5 separate regions of the Homo sapiens genome follow, and regions 2, 3, 4 and 5 are each reported to be linked to region 1. Evidence: microRNA targets listed by miRTarBase, many of them from high-throughput screens and not tested one by one. Region 1 holds a microRNA gene; each other region holds the end of a gene's coding sequence.

Region 1 (4,068 bases):
GCAGCGCTGGGGATGAGCCGTGGGAGCTGTCAGCCCCGCACCAGGTGCGTGCATGTGGGAGGTCAGAGGGCGCCTGCTTCTGCCTCGATGTCTGTGCCCCGTCTCTGACTGCTGGCTTTCTGCTCACACCTAGGATGGCTGCCTGAGAATGGGACTCTTGTTCTGTGTTTGTGGAGACACTCCTTGGGCCGTGTGACTGCCGGCTTTTTACACCCCGACTGCCATGGGGGTCATCTGGACCCGAAGCCAGCTTCAGGAAGGACATTCGCAGCATCCTCAGCCCAAGGAAAGCGAACGTCCAGCTGAAGAGAGGTGAGCACCACGCCTGGGTAATGAGTCACATAACCTGCCACCTGGACCAGGCGGCTCCCGCTCCTCTCCCCTTCTTGAAGGAGAGACCACTGTGGGGAATGGGCTGTGGGTCTGCTTCCTCAGTTACTTGGGGGTACGTGGGGTTTACTACTGTTGACCCTGTGCTCTTTCTTAGCATGGCTTCATGGCCACGATGCCAGCCTCTGGCAGGGGTGGGGCAAGGGCTGGCATGGAGAATGACACTGGTGTCAACGGCTCTGTGAGATGGATGAAGGGATGGTGACCACAGGGCCTTTGCTTTGTCTAAGGTGTAAATTCATCCAGTGCCTGGGACCTCGGTGCTGAGTGCATCCTTAGGAAAACTTCCTGGAGAGGTGCCCACACTGGGAAGGAGATGGTGGTCCCACCCCAGGGAATTCCTATAGAAAGTGAGAAGCTGAGCTCTGCGTGTGCCCAGGAAGGCCCGTGGGGTGGATCTCCTTTTCAGGAACAAGTTCTAATCTGGAGTGATGCCTGGAAAAGAGGCTGATTCTGGTGAAGGGGCACTGGCGTCTGCCCCTTCCTGGCCCCTTTGGGATGGAGAGCTGACCTATGGGCACACAGCTGGCAGGTGGTGTTTGCCACCTGGTCTGCTGATCCCGCATCTCCCACCCCCTCCCCCGCCAGGATGAACCCCGGGAGAGGAGGCCGGCCCCGTGAATGATAGTGAGGAACCTGCCCAGTGCTATTGTTTGGTACTTAAAGCGAGGTTGCCCTTTGTATATTCGGTTTATTGACATGGAATATACAAGGGCAAGCTCTCTGTGAGTATCAAACCTTGTCTTGGACCCAGTCCACACTCAGCAAGGGATGCGGTATGTGTGTGCATGACCGTGTGTATCCGTTTTGTGTGTGGCAAATCGTTCACGGGTCCCCACTTCACAGAGAGGACTTCACGGGCACCTGGATGACTTTAGGGAAGGCAGTGGCCTCTGGGACATCCCCTCTCCTGGTGCAGTGTGGGCGGGGCCAAAAGCATGCACGATGTGTGTGGTCTGGGTCCCTGCTTCCTGAGCGGGAAGTCATCAGCCCGGGCCGATGGCTGGGGTGGCGCTCGTGTGGGGTAGTGGCTTTGTGGTCCCTGCTGTTACTCGGTCCGTGAGTGTGCATGTTCTGCTTGGGGTATGTGACCCGGTCCACTAACCCTCAGCATCTAATTCATCCCCAGGACCGCGCCTTGAAGACGTACCAAGTCCACCCAAGGCAGTGGCTTTCTTTTCCGTGCTAACCTTTGGTACTTGGAGAGTGGTTATCCCTGTCCTGTTCGTTTTGCTCATGTCGAATCGTACAGGGTCATCCACTTTTTCAGTATCAAGAGCGCAGACTCTGGAGCTCGATTTCCTGTGTTTGGATCCCACCTCTGACATTTACTAACCGTCCAACCTTGGGCAAGGATCTCATCGTGCTGTGCCCATTGTCTCACATGTCAAAGGGGAATCACATTGGCGTCCATTTCTTGGGGCTGCTGGGGCTGAACGAGTTAAGACTTGTACACGGCTCAGAGCAGAGCCCCGTGGTCGGCACTTCGTAGGTGGTAGCCAGGACCCTTGTGTGCTGTGAAACTATCATTGGTGGTGGTGGTGGTGGTGGTGGTGGTGGTTTTATGACTAAAATCTCTCCATGGGTTTTTGGAACAGTGTCAAAACATGGAAGTCAAGTCCTTCATCGGGTATGGAATGGACTAGGAAGCCCAGAGCATACACGGTGTTTACAATGGGGGCTAGTGATGCTCTTGATGCTTGGCAGCTAAGCCATTCACACAGTGGCTTTTGATACAGAATGCCACATGCAGTGGGGGTCAGCAGGGGTGCCGAGAACATTTGCTCCACTTAAGAGAGACAGTCCCTGGGTTCTTGACCTCGGCCACTATCTACGCTTTGAAGGAGTCTTGAGCGAGGATGCCAAGCTGAGTGAGGATTCTATGGCATCTTGCTTCCCTGGTGCTTAAAGAGAGGTCAAACTTGGTGCATGCATTGTGCATGCCTGTGTGTGCGTGGTGTGTGTGCATGAGCGAGTGTGTGACTGGGTTTGCCACGAAGCAGTCACCATCTAACCTTGAGCCAAAGACCTGGAGGTGGTGGTCCGTGCTGCTGTTTCATACTTGAGGAGAAATTATCCTTGGTGTGTTCGCTTTATTTATGATGAATCATACAAGGACAATTTCTTTTTGAGTATCAAATCTTGCCTCGGCAGACTTCCTGGACGCCATGACAAGTTCTGTAAAGGGATGCACGCATCAGCCCTTCCCAGGGGCTCACGCCTGGGTGGGGATGAGGGCGCATGCAGTTGGTTTGTGGTGGGGACACTTGTGCCCTAACCTCAGAACCCTGGAGGCGGGGCCACGCTTGGCAGGGGGCCACGGGACTCCTTGGTGCTATCAGGGATTTGCATTGGCCATGGGTGTGTGTTGTGGGTGACGCAGCATTCAAGCTACTTATCAAATCCTGCTTCTTGGAGGCACTTCTTGGACATGAAGCAAACCTTAGGGACCGATCATTGGGGCCAGACCCCCTTCCCCTGCCCAAGAGTGTGACTGACCCCCAGGCATGGGCTTGACTCTCAATGTGTGAAGCTGACCTGCTAATCCTCATTGTTTGGACTACCTGAGAAGAACTTTCTGGAAGAGACACCAACTTTGGAGAAGATGCCCAGCTCTTCTTGATGGCACAGTTCTTTGGTGCTTAAAGAATGGCTGTCCGTAGTATGGTCTCTATATTTATGATGATTAATATCGGACAACCATTGTTTTAGTATCCAAATTTGCTTCAGAAGTTTTTGAAAGCACAGTGCTGACTTCAGTGAGGGGACATTGGTGCCTGCCCCACCATGGAGTGTGACTGTGTTGATGATTTATAATGATGAATCCAGTGATCTCAGAATGCAAGCCACCAGTGTGATTTCCTTGGACAAATGCTAGCTTTGGGGTGGAGATGCCATTTAGGGGCTTGGTGCCATATCTTTTTATTGGAAGATGTTCACAATTATTTCATCTCTCTTTCTCTTCTTGTTATTAAATCTTAGCCACGAGGAATTCCTTGGAGAGATGCCGGGGTCAAGCCTCTCTCTAGGTAGATGGTGGACCGGGGAACCTGGGTCCAGCCTCTCCTATCTGTAGCCTTCATTCTGAGTATGAAACACTTCCTGTAGGGAATGCAAACATTAGTAAAAACTCCGTACATTTCCTGTTACTATTACTACTTTTTGGCAGCTCCTAAGCAGCTGCCTGTTGGGTATTTGGATTATTCTTGGTGGACGTGGCATGGCTTCGTGCCTTCCTTGGGAACCACCCCATCTTAGACAGACTCTCATGGAATAAGACGTTGTGGTCGACAGCACCTCTGGGGTGTGTGTGTGTGTGTGTGTGTGTTTGTGTGCGTGTGCATATGAATAGTTGGCTAGAGTAGTGTTTCTCAAACTTTAAAAATGCTCCTAAGATTTTCATCACCTAGGGATCTTGTTAAAAAGCAGATTCTGATTCAGGGACCAAGATTCTGCATTTTTAGCAAGTTCTCAAGTGATGCTAATACCGCCGGTCTGTGGACAACACTCACAGTGGTTTGGGGCTGGAGACCAGGTGCTTTCCCTGTGATATGTGTCGCCTGTCTCCCCACATGCCATATACCGTCCATCGTGGGAGAACGGCCCAGAATCAACGTGCCATGTTTTGGTTTGTGAACAAGGGTTCACTTTCACATGCGTAAATAGCATGAGATTACT
Region 2 (4,058 bases), not on the chromosome of region 1:
TTGCTTTGTTGCTCAGGGTGGACTCAGACTCCTGGGCCCAAGTAATCCTTCCATCTCAGCTTCCTGAGTAGCTGAGACAACAGGCATGTGCCACTATGCTAGGCTTAATAATCATTTGTTGGTTGTCAGGACGGCTCATGCCTGTAATCCCAGCAGTTTGGGAGGCAGAGGTGGAAGGATTACTTGAGTCCAGGAGTTTGAGACCAGCCTCAGCAACATAGTGAAACCCCATCTTTACAAAAAATAAAAAATTAACCAGGTATGTTGGTGCATGCTTGTGGTCCCAGCTACTCTAGAGGCTGAGGCAGAAGGATTGCTTGAACCCTGGAGTTGGAGGCTGTAGTGAGCCATGATGGTGCCACTGTATTCTTCCTGGTGACACAGCGATACCTTGTCTCAACAAAACAAAACAAAATAAAAAAATATTTATTTTGTCATCATGGAGGTGATTGTGTTTCTTTTTTGTGTGTTTTTTTTTTTGAGACGGAGTCTCACTCTGTTGCCCAGGCTGGAGTGCAGTGGCCTGATCTCGGCTCACTGCAAGCTCCACCTCCCGGGTTCACACCATTCTCCTGCCTCAGCCTCCCAAGTAGCTGGGACTACAGGAGCCTGCCACCACACCTGGCTAATTTTTTTTGTATTTTTAGTAGAGACGGGGTTTCACTGTGTTAGCCAGGATGGTCTTGATCTCCTGACCTTGTGATCCGCCCACCTCGGCCTCCCAAAGTGTATGTGTTTTTATGAAGTTGTGGAAACAAATGCCTGAATGCAATTATTTGTGGGCTCCAAGTACCTTTATAGTCCACCCACAGTAAATAATGTTTTTTGCATTTCCAAACATTGACGAATACTTAAAACTTTACACTATGTACTTTGGGGCTGGCTGGTAGTATAAACATTGTTTCCTTGAAGTTTAGTTAAGACTCCTAGGTTGGTCTTCTAGAGTTCCTTTATTTGCAAAACTCCAAAAATGTACTAGTTTTAACTTGTCTAAATTCCTTACATCTAATTATTTTCCATCCATTAAAAGACTAACAAGTCCATAAAAATTGAGAGATTAATGTAACTCAGGAAAATTCCATCTTCTCTGGGAAGACACAACTCAGTGTAGGCAGAATAGTTTAAAAAATACTATAACTTTTTACCCCTTTTCCTTCTGGTGCTGACAGAGATCAAATATCAAATGGTCCAGGTCAGAGATTAGTTATGGGGATTCTTCAGTTAAAAATGGTGCACTCCTATGCACTCACTCTCTTGAGACCAATGAATATGTTAACAGTTAGTGTTGCTTAAATGTTTATTGCCTTCCTTTTAGTAAAATCAATTATTAAAAAATTGTTGGCTTACATGTGATTCCATATATGTAAATGGTGGAATCTTTATTTGCTATCTTGCAAAAAATATTGGAATTAATGTAAAGCATATAAAATATTGAAACTCATAAAGCCAAAAACATTCTCAAGTGTTCTGCCAATGTTCATTATAGTTTCCTTAAAATACAATATATAAATGAAAACTATTCCAGACACTTCTCCCACATTATACTCTTGTGCTTTTTGCATTTCCTTTCTCCAGAGGGAAAATTTATAGAGGGCATGGGGTGGCCATATAGCAGGGGAAGCGGGTTGCACGAGAAGAATGTAACAGAAATTTACCAGATTGTATTCACGATCTGAAACTGATCTGAGAACAGAAATGGCCTTTCATGTGCATGGCTTGTTCAAGGCAAAGGGTAGGTTTTAAAGAAGTTAGAATTTGCCTTTGATGCCTCACACTCTTGCAGCCTGCCACTTCTTTGTAGTTGAGGATATTCTCCTTGCAAGGTTGTGGACATATGGTTACATATTTCATTATCTTCTGTTTGAAATTGGTTGGTTACATTTTTAATTTTTGTTATGAGCTTACATTTGCTTTCTCATTCCCATTTTATTATTTAACATCAATAATTACCAAAGAGGTTATTGAGTGTTATTGTTAGGAATAAGACAGATGCAAGTTTAAATCCTGGCTTTGACACTTACTGGGAGACTTGTCTCAGTGGCCTACCTTCTATGTGCCTCAATTTCCTCAAACATAGGATGATGACAGTCCTCACATTATGAGATTGTTGTGATGAGGATTATATCAAGCGACTTATGGGAAAAGATCAGTGCAAAATATAAGCCCTGATATATTTTAATTAGAAATTGAATAATACATGCCTTGGAAATAAACAATAATAAATTCAACATGTGTAGTAAATATATAATAACAAAGGAAATTTGGGTGAAACATTTCTCAGTTATAAGAAGGAAGATTTTTTGATTTGTATTATAGAGTGTTTAGTCCGGAAACATTTATCATTACAAAGAACAGCATGAAATCTTAATTAGATTCCCTCACTAGGAGTTATCAAGATAAAAGAAATGCAGAGGATTAATAACATTATATTTAAAGTAAATATCCACTGTCTATGTGCGTTAAATATTCCATTTCAGAAAACTTAGAGATTATTTATTTATACTAGGATGAATGTATATCATATTAGACTTCTTAAATGAATAACAATTCTGCTTTAGGGAAGCAGTAGTAGGATGCTGATAGTAGGCTATCGGGATATTTATCTGTCTTTCTATCCATCGGCTTGTATGCATCTAAGTATTTATACATCCTATCAGAATCACAAAATACATACAAGTAAATGCCAACAAAATCTCAAAATGCAATTAAATTTAGGACATTTTTGCCTTGAATGGCCTCCATACTTAATCTCAATTATTCCTTGAAATTTGGGAGAATAATACATTTTATTACACAAATAAACATATGATTTGAGTTAGAATCACTGATGACAAAATGTTAATCTAAAGTACCAACACAAGGGTGAGTTGGTTGAACAGAATGTGTATAGTTGGGGACTTTCAGATGATTGTCATGTGGGCGTGTGTGACTAACAGTATGGTTGATTATACACTAGAATGTTGTGGTCTAGAAATAATGCTTAATTTTGTTCCAAGCATTTTGTTCAACCTGATATGCAAACAGTAATATATCTCAATATCTTCTGGAAGATGAAACCTTAAGTCATTTAAGGACGCAAGCAGCAACATTAACTGTTATCAGACTTTGGTTTATTGTAAAATTTAGCAAAGTTTTTCTTGTAATCCCTGACCCATTGCTCTGAAAACAAAAGCAAAAACATAATTATTGCTTATTCTTTTCCCCCTACTTTGTTTGTGCTACTGTAAAAGAAGGGAGAAAATCATTGTAATAAATAAAAAATAGAGATGTAACAGAGAAAAATAAATCAGCTCAGATGAGAAGTATTAGGAGCAACAGCAATACCATTAAGCAGTTTCAAAATCAGCTTCTTTTAAAAAGGTCATCTTATTAAAATAAAAATCACACCAAAAATATAGCAGCGGAGAAGAAGGATAAATACAAGTTCATTGCACACCAGTCCCATGCAAAAAACTGTCACTAGCCAAAGCAGTAGTATTCAGAATCCAATTTAGGACGCTTGTGTAGTGCCTGTGAGTCCTCTATGAGGGAGCTGTCACTGAATTGGTCCAAGTCTGAAGGGGTCTGATGGCCTGGGACATCATCCGCCAACGTGTCCAGATAACTTCCCACGGAAATGCCATCCAGCCCATCACTGCCATCGTGTAGGCTGTTGTAGCTGCCACGTAAGGAGGTGCTCTGACTCTCCAACAAACTGCACAGGCTGCCACTGAGGCTGCTGCCTCTGCTGGTAATGGTGGCTTTTTCTTCGATCATCCACTTGATGGACTCGATGCTCTCATTGATTACAAGCAACTGGCGCATGAGCCTGACGTCTGTGGCTCTGAGGTTAACCTATGGACAAAGAGAGAAGAAAGATATTCCAGCCATTTTACACTCTCGAAAGGCCTCAAATTCATCTGGGGACTGTCTGCTGCAGTTCAGAATTTTAAATTCACAGAATAAAATATAAGTGGACTGGTTGTCAGGAACTTTTTGATAATTGCTGACTGATGGTAGGAGTTATAATAAAAAAAACTCACTTCCTGCCAGATGCATCAGGCTCCAAAAGGCACAAT
Region 3 (4,058 bases), not on the chromosome of region 1:
TCAGGAACTCCACCCTATACTTTCTGTAATTATTATTTTTTGAAATTAATTTACTCAGAGGGATTGTTATACTTTCTATAAATCATTAATTAATTATAAAATAAGTACAGATTTTTCAGTGTTCTTATGTTTAATATTTTTATACTTTTAAAAACTTTTGCTTTTCACTTAATGTATGGAAAGATATTGCTAGTTAATGTGTTTTCTTTCTCTCTTTTTAGATATATATCTGCCTGTAATTGGTCAGTCCCCTGTAGTTGATAAAAAGTTTTTACTACTTCAAGGACTTGTAGAAAAAGAGATTGATTACCAAAGAGAATTGTTAGAAACCTTGGGGATGATGGATATGCTTTTTGCCACCATGAGAAGGAAGGAAGGCACTTCTGTGTTGGAACACACATCTGATGGATTTCCAGAGAATAAGAAGATAGAATCATAGTGTCTGCTAAATAAGACATATAAGAACTCTGAAGTTGGAATAGATTTGACTGTATTAAATGTTGGCGAGAGACTCTCTTTGATACATTAAAAAAACTGTTTGCAGAAGCAGTTCTGTGGAAGAGACTGGAATAATTATGGCCGGAAAACAAGTACCCGTTTTAAGTAAGACATGGTTTTCCATGTAATATTTTGAATTATAGCATCTTCACCTAGAAGATCTCAATTGTCTTAGTCACAGAGTAGGTTTATCTGGGATGGATATTAATTTTAATACAGGAGTGTTCTGTATCAACATTTGGGTTGGTATTCAGATGGGAATTCAAATATGAATCCTCTCTGGAGAGGGTCCAACTGGGAATCCTGCTAAAGGAGCAAAGCCTTGTATTACCTCTGGAAGACAACAAAAACAATTGGCAACAACAAAAAGCCTCTTTCTTGACTTTAATCAGTGCCTTTGGGATTTCTAGGCCCTTGCTTAGCTTGCTTCCTGTCTCCTTGATATCTACACTTGTCTTAGATCACATGCCCTGCTTCAGCTGGTAATGGGACTGCATCGGTTCCAAGTGTGGCAAGTAAGTTTTCGGCTCTGAAGAACTGACACTAGCTAGATTTGTATTCAGAGTGTGAGAGCAAGCTCTACAGATAGACCTTATTGGACTACTTTTTTTTTTTTCTTCATGCAGCCTTTCTACCAAGTTTTCACCTTGTTTCAGGTCAGAGGAATGATAGAATTTGTCATTTTTCTTACAACAGCCTTTCAGACTATTCTTCATATGTTTCAAGCTAATCTTGTAGCTAAGCTACCTAATCCTCTGAAAACTGTTTTCTCTGATTTGTATTTAGATTCCTCCCCCCATTATTCACAATCATATTGTATTTCGGAACCCCAATGCAGAGCAGTTTGCTTTGAAAAATAGTTGTTTTTAAAAGTTTAATGTAAATAATTATTTTTTAGAAGTTTTTTTTTTTTTTTTAAAGACAGGGTCTCGCTTTATCGCCCAGGCTGGAGTACAGTGATGCAATCTCAGTCCACTGCAACCTCTGCCCTCCCGGGTTTAAGCAGTTCTCCTGCCTCAGCCTCCTGAGTAGCTGGGATTACAGGTGTGCCCCACCACGCCTGGCTAATTTTTGTAGTTTTAGTAGAGACGGGGTTTCACCTTACCGGGCTGGTCTAAAACTCCTGACCTCAAGTGATCTACCTGCCTCTGCCTCCCGAAGTGCTTGGATTACAGGTGTGAGCCACTGTGTCCAGCCTGTAACTATTATTTTTTTATAAAGAGAGATTCTTATTTTCTTGGCTTTTTGATGTATCTGTTCCTGATAGATAATCATTGGCTAGTAACTCCTAGTACACTGGTTTCACAGTTGCTACCTCTCCTGCTTTTCTCTAATTATTACGCCAACTCAAGTAGTTAAAAATCAGTAAGAAAAATGTCTTGAGCTAGAAGAACCCATAGAGGAAGATTTTGTAATGCGAATCTCCTCTCATAATTTTAGTTCTGTAAATTCAGGGTTTTTTTTTGTTTTTTTGTTTTTTTTAAGCCGAAAAAATGCTTAATATGTTCCAGTAAGGGTATTAAGTAAAAATTAAATAAACGTATTAAGTTTAACATATTAAATTAATTTAACATTTAGACTAACATTAACATTTAAATTAATATGTTAAGTGAATATACTTAATATATTCTAGTACAGGTATGCTTGGAAATAGGGCGTTTCCTTTTCATGAATTGATTTCGTACAGCACAGTGGCTTATAAGGAACCAGCAGTGTTTTTCCCTGAGTAATTATGAACTTAGTCAAGATCAGAAGCTGGGTTTTGGGGTTGAGAAGAGTTCATTTATTTAAATAAAGTTTCTATTTAAAAACCTTTTTAAAAAGTTAACATCATAAATATTCTGATAATTTGCATAGTAGTAAAAATTAGAAGTTGAAATTCTACCTAAAGCTGTAGTTGCCGTCAATTGTGTAACATGTGACAAAGGTTTTCCCATATGTCATTTCATTTGATTCTCACCACAACCATCCAAGGTTGATGTTATTCTCATTTAACATTGAGTTAACGAAAGTAGTTGATTCACTCTCGAAGTCCCTGAGTGTGAGCTCTTCATCCTAGCACTGTGAAGTGGTTTGCCTGCTGGGGCCTAAACTCCTCATTCCCTTTAACAAAGCTTCACTGAGTGCTGCAGTTCTCAAAATATGTAACAGTTAACACATTTTTCAAACAGGTTAGGAAGCAATTCCCATAGCCATCAATACTTAAATTCAGGAGTACTTTTTTGTTTGTTTGTTTTGTTTTGTTTTTAGAGACAAGGTCTCTTTCTGTTGTCCAGGCTGGAGTGTAGTGGTGTGATCATAGCTCACTGCAGCTTCTGTCTCCTAGGCTGAAGCTATCCTCCCACCTCAGCCTCCTGAGAAGCTGGGGCTACAGGGATGAGCCACCATGCCCAGCTAATTTTTTATTTTGATTTTTTGAGATAAGAGGTCTCACCATGTTGCCCAGGCCTGAGGCAATCTCCTGGTTTCAAGCAATCTTCCCACCTCAGCCTCCTTAATGACTGGGATTAAAGGCATGAGCCACTGCGCCCAGCAGGAATGGTTATTATATTCATTGAGATAAACTGTAGTATTTGCTGTTTGAAGTATTTAAACATAATTGGCATATTACAATATGTGACACTGGCCTTAAGATTCTAATTTAAAATGCTTAACAGACTTTTAGACTTATGAGTTTCAGTTGAAAGGTATTTTAAAATGTTACTAAGTCTGCAAAAGTACTGAAATGTTTCAGAGAACTTGGAAAGTCACCGTATGTTTAATTTATTATGTTTATGAGATTTAAGCACTTGGGAAGGTTTATGCTAATGGGGTCAAGCATTTGCAATGCTGCTTAAAAGAATCATTTTTTTAAATGTATAAATGCTATTAAGTTGTTTAAAGGAATTTGAATTGTAAATGGGATTGTTAAAACAAATTTAGTCTGTTCAACTCAATGAGGGCATTTCATTTTCTAGGAACAAAATACCCTCTTAGACATTAAAAAGCCGCATGCCTGTTCCCTCAGCTATAGTTAACTGGACCATGGTGGTACAACTGACTCAACCCTTCTCTAAGCAGGGATTTGTAATTGGGATTTATAATGAAATTCCTGATCTGGGAAAATGGGAGGCTGGGAATGCTATGTCTAGGTCATCAGCGGAGAAAGTTGGTTTGTAGAGAATGAACAAGAATGAAACCTAAGTGCAAAGAAAATAAAGATTATCCTGCTTTAATAGTTCAGACTAGAGGAGAGAGAAACCATCTTAGTTCCTGATGACTTCCTATTGCCCTATTCTGGTTGTACCTCTTCCCCCAGGGGTCCATGATATTTTTGGATTCCCTCTAACACTTGTTTGCTTAGTTGACTGTGAGTGGTTTTCTCTTATTTACAACCAAATGACTCTGAAAACACTAATCCACTGGTCCTGATATTTATTGAGACACATTAGAGGCCAGGGTATCAAGGTTATAGCAATGAACAAAATAGACAAAATATCTCCCTCAATATTCTGATTAGGGGAGATACTCAGTGAACAAGTACATATGTAGTGGGGTCACGTGGTGCTAAATGAGATGGA
Region 4 (4,058 bases), not on the chromosome of region 1:
CCTACTGCCTAATCACTCACTTAAAGTTAGATGCCCTTGTCACAGATTAGTGACATAGTACTTGTTTTGCTGTCTTGTAAGTTTGATTTGTTCATCTACTCATTAGATAATCACCTCCTTGAGGATTGAGACTAGTTTCACCTCTGAGTCATCCATATGTAGCCCAGAAGTAGTAGTAGCCTGGAAAATAGGTATTTGGTCTTTTTTGAATTTTTCATTCAAATCATAGACAAATTCAAAGCTTAGAGGAACCTTATGGATATCTAGTGCATAACCTCATCTGTGTTAGCTGTCATCATTTTAAGTACTTTGGAATCCACCTCCAATACAAAGTTTATTATAGATGATCATGCTTTATACCTGAAAATTAATTTTATAAAACAGTTCATTTTCTCTTTACAGGTTAGTTGAAACATTAAAAAGCAGACAGTAATTCAGTCCATTCTTCTCCCCTGAAATGAAGACTACATCACCTCTCTCCCTTTGGAAACAGTCAAGTGTACTTCACACTACTAGATGTTAAAACTATATGATTATTGGCATATACTGACTGACTGCAATATTTGTAGTAAATAGGGAAAATAAGTATTTAGTTGGAGGGATAATTTGATCGAATCACCTGAATGTTCTATGTAATGTAAAATATTCTTTTCTTGCTTTCTTGTGTTAAGGTATATATTCTATTTGTATGGAATTCTTATTCAAATACAGTTCTATTAAAGAGTATACTCCTATTGGATGAAAAAAACCTATTTTTGAATAGTAGTTGCAGCTTGTTTGTATAAATACTAAAAAATATCTTAACAGATTTTTTTCCCCTTAAAATGAATTATCTTTCCAAAGATTAGACTCAGTATGAGAGTAGGTGAGGAACATAGTTTGTGTAATATAATCTTTATTTGCTTACCTGACCACTTTTTATTAAGCTGTTTTGTTTAAAAGCTTTTGGTTATAGGCATGAATATTGTTTTGATGGTTAACTTCACTGACTTATCTGTAAGTGTCATTTTATAGTACTTTACAGTTGTCAAAAAAAATCTTACATATATTGATCTAGTTGATCGGTAGAGGAAGCTTGTGAAGTAGGTAGGACAGGTTATGATGTCTTCACTGTATGGACGTGAACCCAGGGTTCTAATAGGTTGGCTTGCCCAAGGTCACCTGCTAGCTTGTAAGGTAGGAATAGGGCTCAAAGTAAAACTTTTGGTTCAGAAGCTTGACTCATAAACTATACTATATATTCCCAAAAATGTCAGTATTGACAACACAGTCTAACTCTTAAATAAAATTATGCTAATTAGTTACATTCAAAATAATGTTTATAAATTTATTTGTCTATACTAGTAGAAGTGATCAGTGACATACTATAAATAATCCTAAATGGTTATATTTGATAGAATTCATAACACATTAAAGAGAAAATTTCACATTAAAGGAAGGTTTAAAAATCTATTTTCAGATTATAAAAGGTGTCTTTACTGGTTTTCATTCCTTTTATCTACATGTAATTGGACATGTAAACTTGTTAAAAATCAAAATCTTACTGATTGTACAGGGAGAAATTAAGCATTCTGTTTTAAAAATTAGGCTTATTGCTAGACTGTAAGTTTAAAAACAATTCATGTTCAAAGGAGCTTTTCAAATTACCCAGTCCACCACAGAATCAGCTAATGTGACAGAAGTAAATATAGTGCGTCATAATTGCTAAAAACAGGGTGAATTTCTTTCACTTAAGTTGGAAAACCAGCCTCTAAAAAATTAGGTGCTGGTAATGAGAGCTTAATACCATGGTTCCCTGCAGGTCTCAGAAACATTAGTAGTTCCTTTCTTGGCCCTCACTGTCCTTCCAGTGTTGGCCTCTGGCCTCTTCCCCTCACATTTATGTTCATTCTCCGGGCTTATATTCATTCTCTGCTGCTTTCTCCCTTCACCCGTGGGACTCTCACCCTTCTTGCTCATTCTCCAGCACCCATTCCTACTTTAGTCTCTTTGAAATCTTTTTTGGAGATTTTCCTTCAGCTACAAATGTTCCAGTACAACCAATATTACTCCTGAGGGGCAAAGACTTTTTCATATTTATGTCCCTAGTATCTGGTATGGCGCCTGGCATATGGCATTTCAGAATATGTTCATAGTTGAAACAGTAGGATAGATATTTGTCATCTTGACAAGTAGCCCTTTGCAATTTATACTTGAGTTCACTCCTGGTCAATGGCACATGGCTGGAAAATGCAGAAAGCAAGTTCACTTACAGCCTGAGGCTTATAAAGCTTGTACAGCTGCCTCCCGGCAGTCCAGGAAAACTGCAAAAAATGGGAAGTAAGGTCCTGGCAGGCAGACCCGGCATGTAGCCGCTGGCCATCTTGAATCCTAGGGCATGAAGTTGCCCCAAAGTTCAGCACTTGGTTAAGCCTGATCCCTCTGGTTTATCACAAAGAATAGGATGGGATAAAGAAAGTGGACACTTAAATAAGCTATAAATTATATGGTCCTTGTCTAGCAGGAGACAACTGCACAGGTATACTACCAGCGTTTGGATATTGATATATACATGGCAAATCTGAATATTGTTTTATGAGAGGCCTGGCAATGGGTAAAACACCAAACTTGAAATCAGAACATAGGTGCAAATGGCCACTCCTGTAGTTTCTTTTCTGTAAAATGGGATCTGGACGAATGATACCAAACGTTTCTTTCTAACATTGTATTTTATAACTCTGGCCTATGATTGTGTTGTGTCTTGCATTAAAAAAAAAAATTTGAGAGTGGTAGAATTACTTCTGTTATCTGAAATACCTGAGATGCACTTTAAACTGTTGAAATGTAAGCTCTGAGGGCAGGGACCGTATCTTATTTACTGTTAGTATCCGTTGCATCTAGTGTGGTGCACCTGGCACACAGTAGGCACTCAATAAATATGTATTGATTAAAAACAAAGACGTCTTCAATATGCCAGATATATTTGTCCTTTCTGATCTTTGCCTTAGTATTTTATTTTTAAAAATTTTATGAAAGCAATACATGCACTTAAGTCACTTAGAATTAATTAAAATCAGTCTTCTAAGATGGCCTCCTTTTGATAAATTACAAAGCCCTTAGAAGCGTGAGAATTCCCGTTTGAGATACACACTACATCAAAGCACAGATGCTGAAGTGAATGAACATTTGATTTCTGTGCCACATACTGTCATATTCTAAGCCCGTAATTACAAATTATAAAGCATGGACTTTTGTTTTTTTTTTTTTTTTTTTTTTTTGAGATGGAGTCTCACTGTCACCCAGGCTGGAGTGCATTGGCACGATCTCGGCTCACTGTAACCTCTGCCTCCCAGGCGCAAGCGATTCTCCTGGCTCAGCCTCCTGAGTAGCTGGGACTACAGGTGCCGTGCCACCACGCCCGGCTAATTTTTGTATTTTTAGTAGAGACAGGGTTTCATCATGTTGGCCAGGCTGGTCTCGAACTCCTGACCTCAAGTGATCCACCTGCCTTGGCCTCCCAAAGTGCTGGGATTACAGGTGTGAGCCACCACGCTCAGCTCAAAGCATGGACTTTGAATCTTGATTGTAGCACCTACATCCTGTATCACCCTTAGGCAAGTTATTTACTCTGAGTCTCAGTTTCTTCATCTGTAAAATAGGAACCAATTGTAGAAATCTCTCAGGAGTACTAGGATTAAACAAAATGTATCCAAAGTGCCTGGCACATAGGGTGGATTTCCCACCCCATATGTCCCCAAATATATGGGGCACTAAAGAATATTTCTTCCACATCAAGTATAGGGTGAGGCAAAAGATGCTATGTGGTTGAACAACAGAAACAACTTGAGCCACCTCTAAATAAGTGTGACTTATTACAGTTTTAGTTTGTTTTTATTTTTTTATTATACTTTAAGTTTTAGGGTATATGTGCACAACGTGCAGGTTAGTTACATATGTATACATGTGACATGCTGGTGTACTACACCCACTAACTCGTCATCTAGCATTAGGTATATCTCCCAATGCTATCCCTCCCCCCTTCCCCCACCTCACAACAGTCCCCAGAGTGTGATGTTCCC
Region 5 (4,058 bases), not on the chromosome of region 1:
GAAATTTAAATGTAACTCTAAAAGTTATGTTAAAAACATGTCATTTAGACCAAGCATGGTGGCTCACACCTATAATCCCAGCACTTTGGGAGGGCAAGATGGGCTGATCACTTGTGGCCAGGAGTTCAATACCAGCCTGGCCAACGTGGCAAAACCCTGTCTCTACTAAAAATACAAAAATTAGCTGGACATGGTGGCGCACACCCATAATCCCAGCTACTCGGGAGGCTGAGGCACGAGAATCACTTGAACCCAGGAGGCAGAGGTTTCAGTGAGCCGAGATTACACAACTGCACTCCAGCCTAGGCAACAGAGCCAGATTCTTTTTTTTTTTTTTTTTTTTAAAAAGTCTTTTAAAAAATTCTTTTATTGTGCTGATTTTATTGTGTCATGAAGTGTAATATGCATGTAGGTATGTGTCAAGTATACAGAGTGTCAGGCATACGGTGTTCAGTCATAAGCAGTTCTGGCCTTTGGCCCTGCACTGTTTGTTGGCTTTTTAGGTAGGAACCTTCTTAGAGTAAGACTGTCATGCTAAAATTGTAGCAATCAAATGTGCCCCCCATACAACTCATTTGAGGTTGAGATTATGTTGCTAGAGTGGAGGAGATTGGAGTGTTCTAAATGCTAACAGTTTGTCCTGCCTCCTTGCCCCTGCCCCCTGCTCCTTTTTGTTTTCTTCTACTGTAGGTCAGCCCCAGTTGATGCTGACAGCAGGACCCAGTGTTGCCGTCCCTCCCCAGGCACCTTTTGGTTATGGTTATACCGCACCACCGTATGGACAGCCACAGCCTGGCTTTGGGTACAGCATGTGAGATGAAGCGCTGATCCTGTAGTCACCTATTTTCGTACTGAAACATCGTCTTTACCCACTTCTCAGTTTATAATGGGGGAAAACAGGCAACGTGTTCTTGTAACCTTTATTTCATGAAGGACTTCTTTTTGTTTCTAACTATAAACTTGGATCACCTATGTTAAAACCTTATTTCACATTCCACATCATTTTAGAATTTATTTTCGAAGGGGAATAGTTTCAATGTTTTATTCACTTGGGCTTTTTTTCTTCCCCCTCTTTCTTTAAAGAACTGCTCAATATTCAATCTGTTGTGAAGAACCTGATTTGCACTCTGTAGTGTTTAAAGAAACAAAGAAACTCTAATATTGAATCTCTTAAATTTAGTGTATGTAAACAGCTTACAAATACGTATTGTCTAAATGCATTTAAATCTGTTTTATTCAAAGAAAAGCTAAAGCAAAAACACTGGCATATGACCATGCAAGACTGTCAGTGCCAACAAAGACAACACTAATCAGCACATCGTACACTGGATTGCAGTGCTTCCCAGATTATTGAAAAATGTTACAGACAACTTGCCTGATTTTTAAATGAGCGTAAAAGGCCCTCTAACCTATGCAGGTTTCCCCATTATGCATATAGAAAATGCTAGTATGTTTTGCTCACTTCATATGTAACAGGTGCCCTTATGTTGTGCTGTATCCTGTGCTTTTTCTGTGGGACCATTCCATTCAGGAGCAAAGAGCACCATGATTCCAATCTTGTGTGTGTTTACTAACCCTTCCCTGAGGTTTGTGTATGTTGGATATTGTGGTGTTTTAGATCACTGAGTGTACAGAAGAGAGAAATTCAAACAAAATATTGCTGTTCTTCAGTTTTGTTTGTGGAATTTGAAATTACTCAAATTTAAAATAAATTACTGGACTGTGGAAATAACATAGAATTGAAGTTTTAATTAAATACCACTCAAACGAAAAGAACAGTAGTTTTTGTAGTTTTATATTGGATACTGAGGCATTAGGGAGGCATGAAAGGAAGAGGAATGAGGATTGAGACATGTGAAGACATTGTGCATTATATCAATGTGCATTCCTGTAGTTCATTAACAAGGTACATGCAATAGTCTAAAGAACCAGAGTCACTACTATAGTGGCTTAACATTTAATCTGTCTCCAATATTTTAACCAAGTGACACCGAGGTTTTTATCGAAGCATTTCACTTAAATGAACAAATCATGGCTGTTATATTAACTTGAAATAAAATATATTTAAACATGTAGTTAACATGCTCTTTCTCATCATGAATTATAAAGGTGCCCAAATTATGGGTATCTTGATTTTTTTCAAAAATTGGTTGTGTGAATCCAGCTCTTGCTTATGGCTGAGAATGTTCCTAAAGTTCATTTCACTATCCCTTAATCCTCAATAGCTACACATACCCCCTTGCCTAGTTAGTCTTGCACTGCTTTACAACTCTCTTAGGCAAATTACCTAACATAAGCTCCACAGAAGAGTTTTTTAAAACTTAAAATCCCTGTCCCACCAGGTGTGGTGGCTCATGCCTGTAATCCCAGCACTTTGGGAGGCTGAGGCAGGCGGATTGCTTGAGGCCAGGAGTTCGAGACAAGCCTGACCAACATGGTGACTCCATCTCTACTAAAAATAAAAAATCAGCCAGGTGTGATGGTGGATGCCTATAAGATCCTAGCTGCTACTCAGGAGGCAGGAGGCTGAGGCATGAGAATCACTTGAACCTGTGAGGCAAAGGTTGTAGTGAGCCAAGATCACGTCACTGCACTCCATCCTGGGTGACAGAATGAGACTCTTGTCTCAAAAAACAAAAAAACCTATTTAGTTTCATCCAGGACATTAAGTGAAAGTGTTTAATGTGAGTGCAGGTCAGTGAAGAATACAATGGTGCCCCTGCTTTGATTTGTGGGAGGTGCCATCAGTTTTCCCCACCACTGCTTTTGCACCCTCAGTGCAAATATCAACACAGAGAAAAAAAAAATAATAATAGTATTATGAAAACATTGACTCTGTGGAGACCCTGTGGGTTCTGCAGAGTATACTTTGAAAACTATAAGATTATGAGTTCTATAAAATACCAAGTACAGATGAACTAGAAAACAAGCATATATCCACAATTACCAGAATTTTCATAGTATTCCTTTTAGTAGATATGCCATGACAGTTACTTAGCCACCCCATGCCATCCTGTTGGGAATGCCACTACCTTTGAATTTGGAGCCATCAGTCTATCTGAGGCAAACCTCAGAAATTACCTGAGCCAGAATCATGCACTTAGCACTGAGTTCAACTCAGTCTTAACGTTGCATTTTGTTGCATCACTTTTGCAGCCAGTAAACATTCTGTTTAGAAATAGTTGCTATTGTGGCATCATTCACAGTTGCAATTTTTCTCCTGTGCTGTCATATGCCTGTGCGAAGTGTATTAAATGAATCAAATATTAGAAATTTCAAGGCTGTCTTTAGTGTTCTGCCCACAATACTCCACCAATGACCTTAGACCTTGAGATGGTGCTATAACGCTGCTTATATTGCAGTTAACCATAGAGAGGTGGAGCCACTTAAAATGGGCCTATTACCAAAATTCTCCCTGGCATCATTACAGTTCTTGGGGATACACTGATTTTAGAAATTACTGTCAGTATCCTCCTAAAAGAAGGCTTAAATAGTTTCTAACAAGATGACTATCAGGAAGCTATGTGGCTTGGGGAGTTGGGACCCTCTGCCTCATATTCTGGGTAACTGGTATAACATAGTAATTATTAGGATTGTATCAAGTGTATCTAAAGATCAAAAGGGAAAAAAGGCACCCTTAATTGTCAAAGTTAGTTCTAGGAAAAAATACTAGCAGGGATGACAAACTACGTTCACTTTACAGTTACCATAAATTCTTACTTGGGCCCACCCATTTCCATCTGTTAAGGTCCATAAGGTTACTCAAGTTTCAGTGGCTTCATTGTTACAAGAAAGGGGGGAAGTGAGAAACTTTAATAGGCTGTGATTTAGAACCACTGCTGATTAACCTTTGGCCAGTATGGGTCAGGGAAGGTGAACATGAAACACTGCACAGTAGGTTGTATCAATGCTATAAAACTCAACCTGGAGACAAAATTTAAACAGGTTATAAACCATGGGACTCCATTGAGGGTGGCTGTATCAGTCACCCAAAAAGTGACAGCAGGGGAACAAACTGCAGCTTGCCTCTAGTGGGAATACCCTTGAACCTCGACCTC

The links. The annotated mature microRNA hsa-miR-381-3p reads UAUACAAGGGCAAGCUCUCUGU and lies in region 1 at 1,096-1,117, shown strand. An mRNA with a match to its seed (bases 2 to 7 or 8) in the 3' UTR can be bound and repressed. Matches are read on the target gene's strand: a 7mer-m8 pairs with bases 2 to 8, a 7mer-A1 pairs with bases 2 to 7 and ends in A, and an 8mer does both.
Region 2: the mRNA of LURAP1L is a reported target of hsa-miR-381-3p. Seed matches in the 3' UTR shown: 7mer-m8 at 3,418-3,424 and 7mer-m8 at 2,671-2,677.
Region 3: the mRNA of UTP15 is a reported target of hsa-miR-381-3p. Seed matches in the 3' UTR shown: 7mer-m8 at 820-826.
Region 4: miRTarBase lists ARL1 as a target of hsa-miR-381-3p. Seed matches in the 3' UTR shown: 7mer-A1 at 778-784.
Region 5: miRTarBase lists CLTC as a target of hsa-miR-381-3p. The part of its 3' UTR that is shown has no 7-base or 8-base seed match.

Annotation. Positions count from the first base shown.
Region 1 is chr14:101,044,873-101,048,940 of GRCh38, forward strand. MIR381 (microRNA 381) reads left to right here and starts at 1,048; the gene lies at 1,048-1,122. MIR381HG (MIR381 host gene) reads left to right here and starts at 285. Exons shown (of 3, transcript NR_104192.1): 1 at 285-312. It overlaps MIR487B (microRNA 487b), which reads left to right and starts at 1,583; the gene lies at 1,583-1,666. It overlaps MIR539 (microRNA 539), which reads left to right and starts at 2,449; the gene lies at 2,449-2,526. It also overlaps MIR889 and MIR544A. RefSeq lists enhancers at 893-1,393, 1,394-1,894.
Region 2 is chr9:12,821,162-12,825,219 of GRCh38, reverse strand. LURAP1L (leucine rich adaptor protein 1 like) reads right to left here. Exons shown (of 2, transcript NM_203403.2): 2 at 2,160-3,834. The coding sequence ends at 3,460. Among named protein-coding and RNA genes, the nearest start is that of LURAP1L-AS1, 8.8 kb to the right of the region's middle.
Region 3 is chr5:73,579,656-73,583,713 of GRCh38, forward strand. It overlaps UTP15 (UTP15 small subunit processome component), which reads left to right. Exons shown (of 13, transcript NM_032175.4): 13 at 222-3,725. The coding sequence ends at 439. Among named protein-coding and RNA genes, the nearest start is that of UTP15, 16 kb to the left of the region's middle.
Region 4 is chr12:101,392,015-101,396,072 of GRCh38, reverse strand. It overlaps ARL1 (ARF like GTPase 1), which reads left to right. Exons shown (of 6, transcript NM_001177.6): 6 at 403-2,957. The coding sequence ends at 433. Among named protein-coding and RNA genes, the nearest start is that of ARL1, 14 kb to the left of the region's middle.
Region 5 is chr17:59,693,038-59,697,095 of GRCh38, forward strand. It overlaps CLTC (clathrin heavy chain), which reads left to right. Exons shown (of 32, transcript NM_004859.4): 32 at 691-3,919. The coding sequence ends at 815. Among named protein-coding and RNA genes, the nearest start is that of PTRH2, 12 kb to the right of the region's middle. RefSeq lists an enhancer at 3,665-3,714.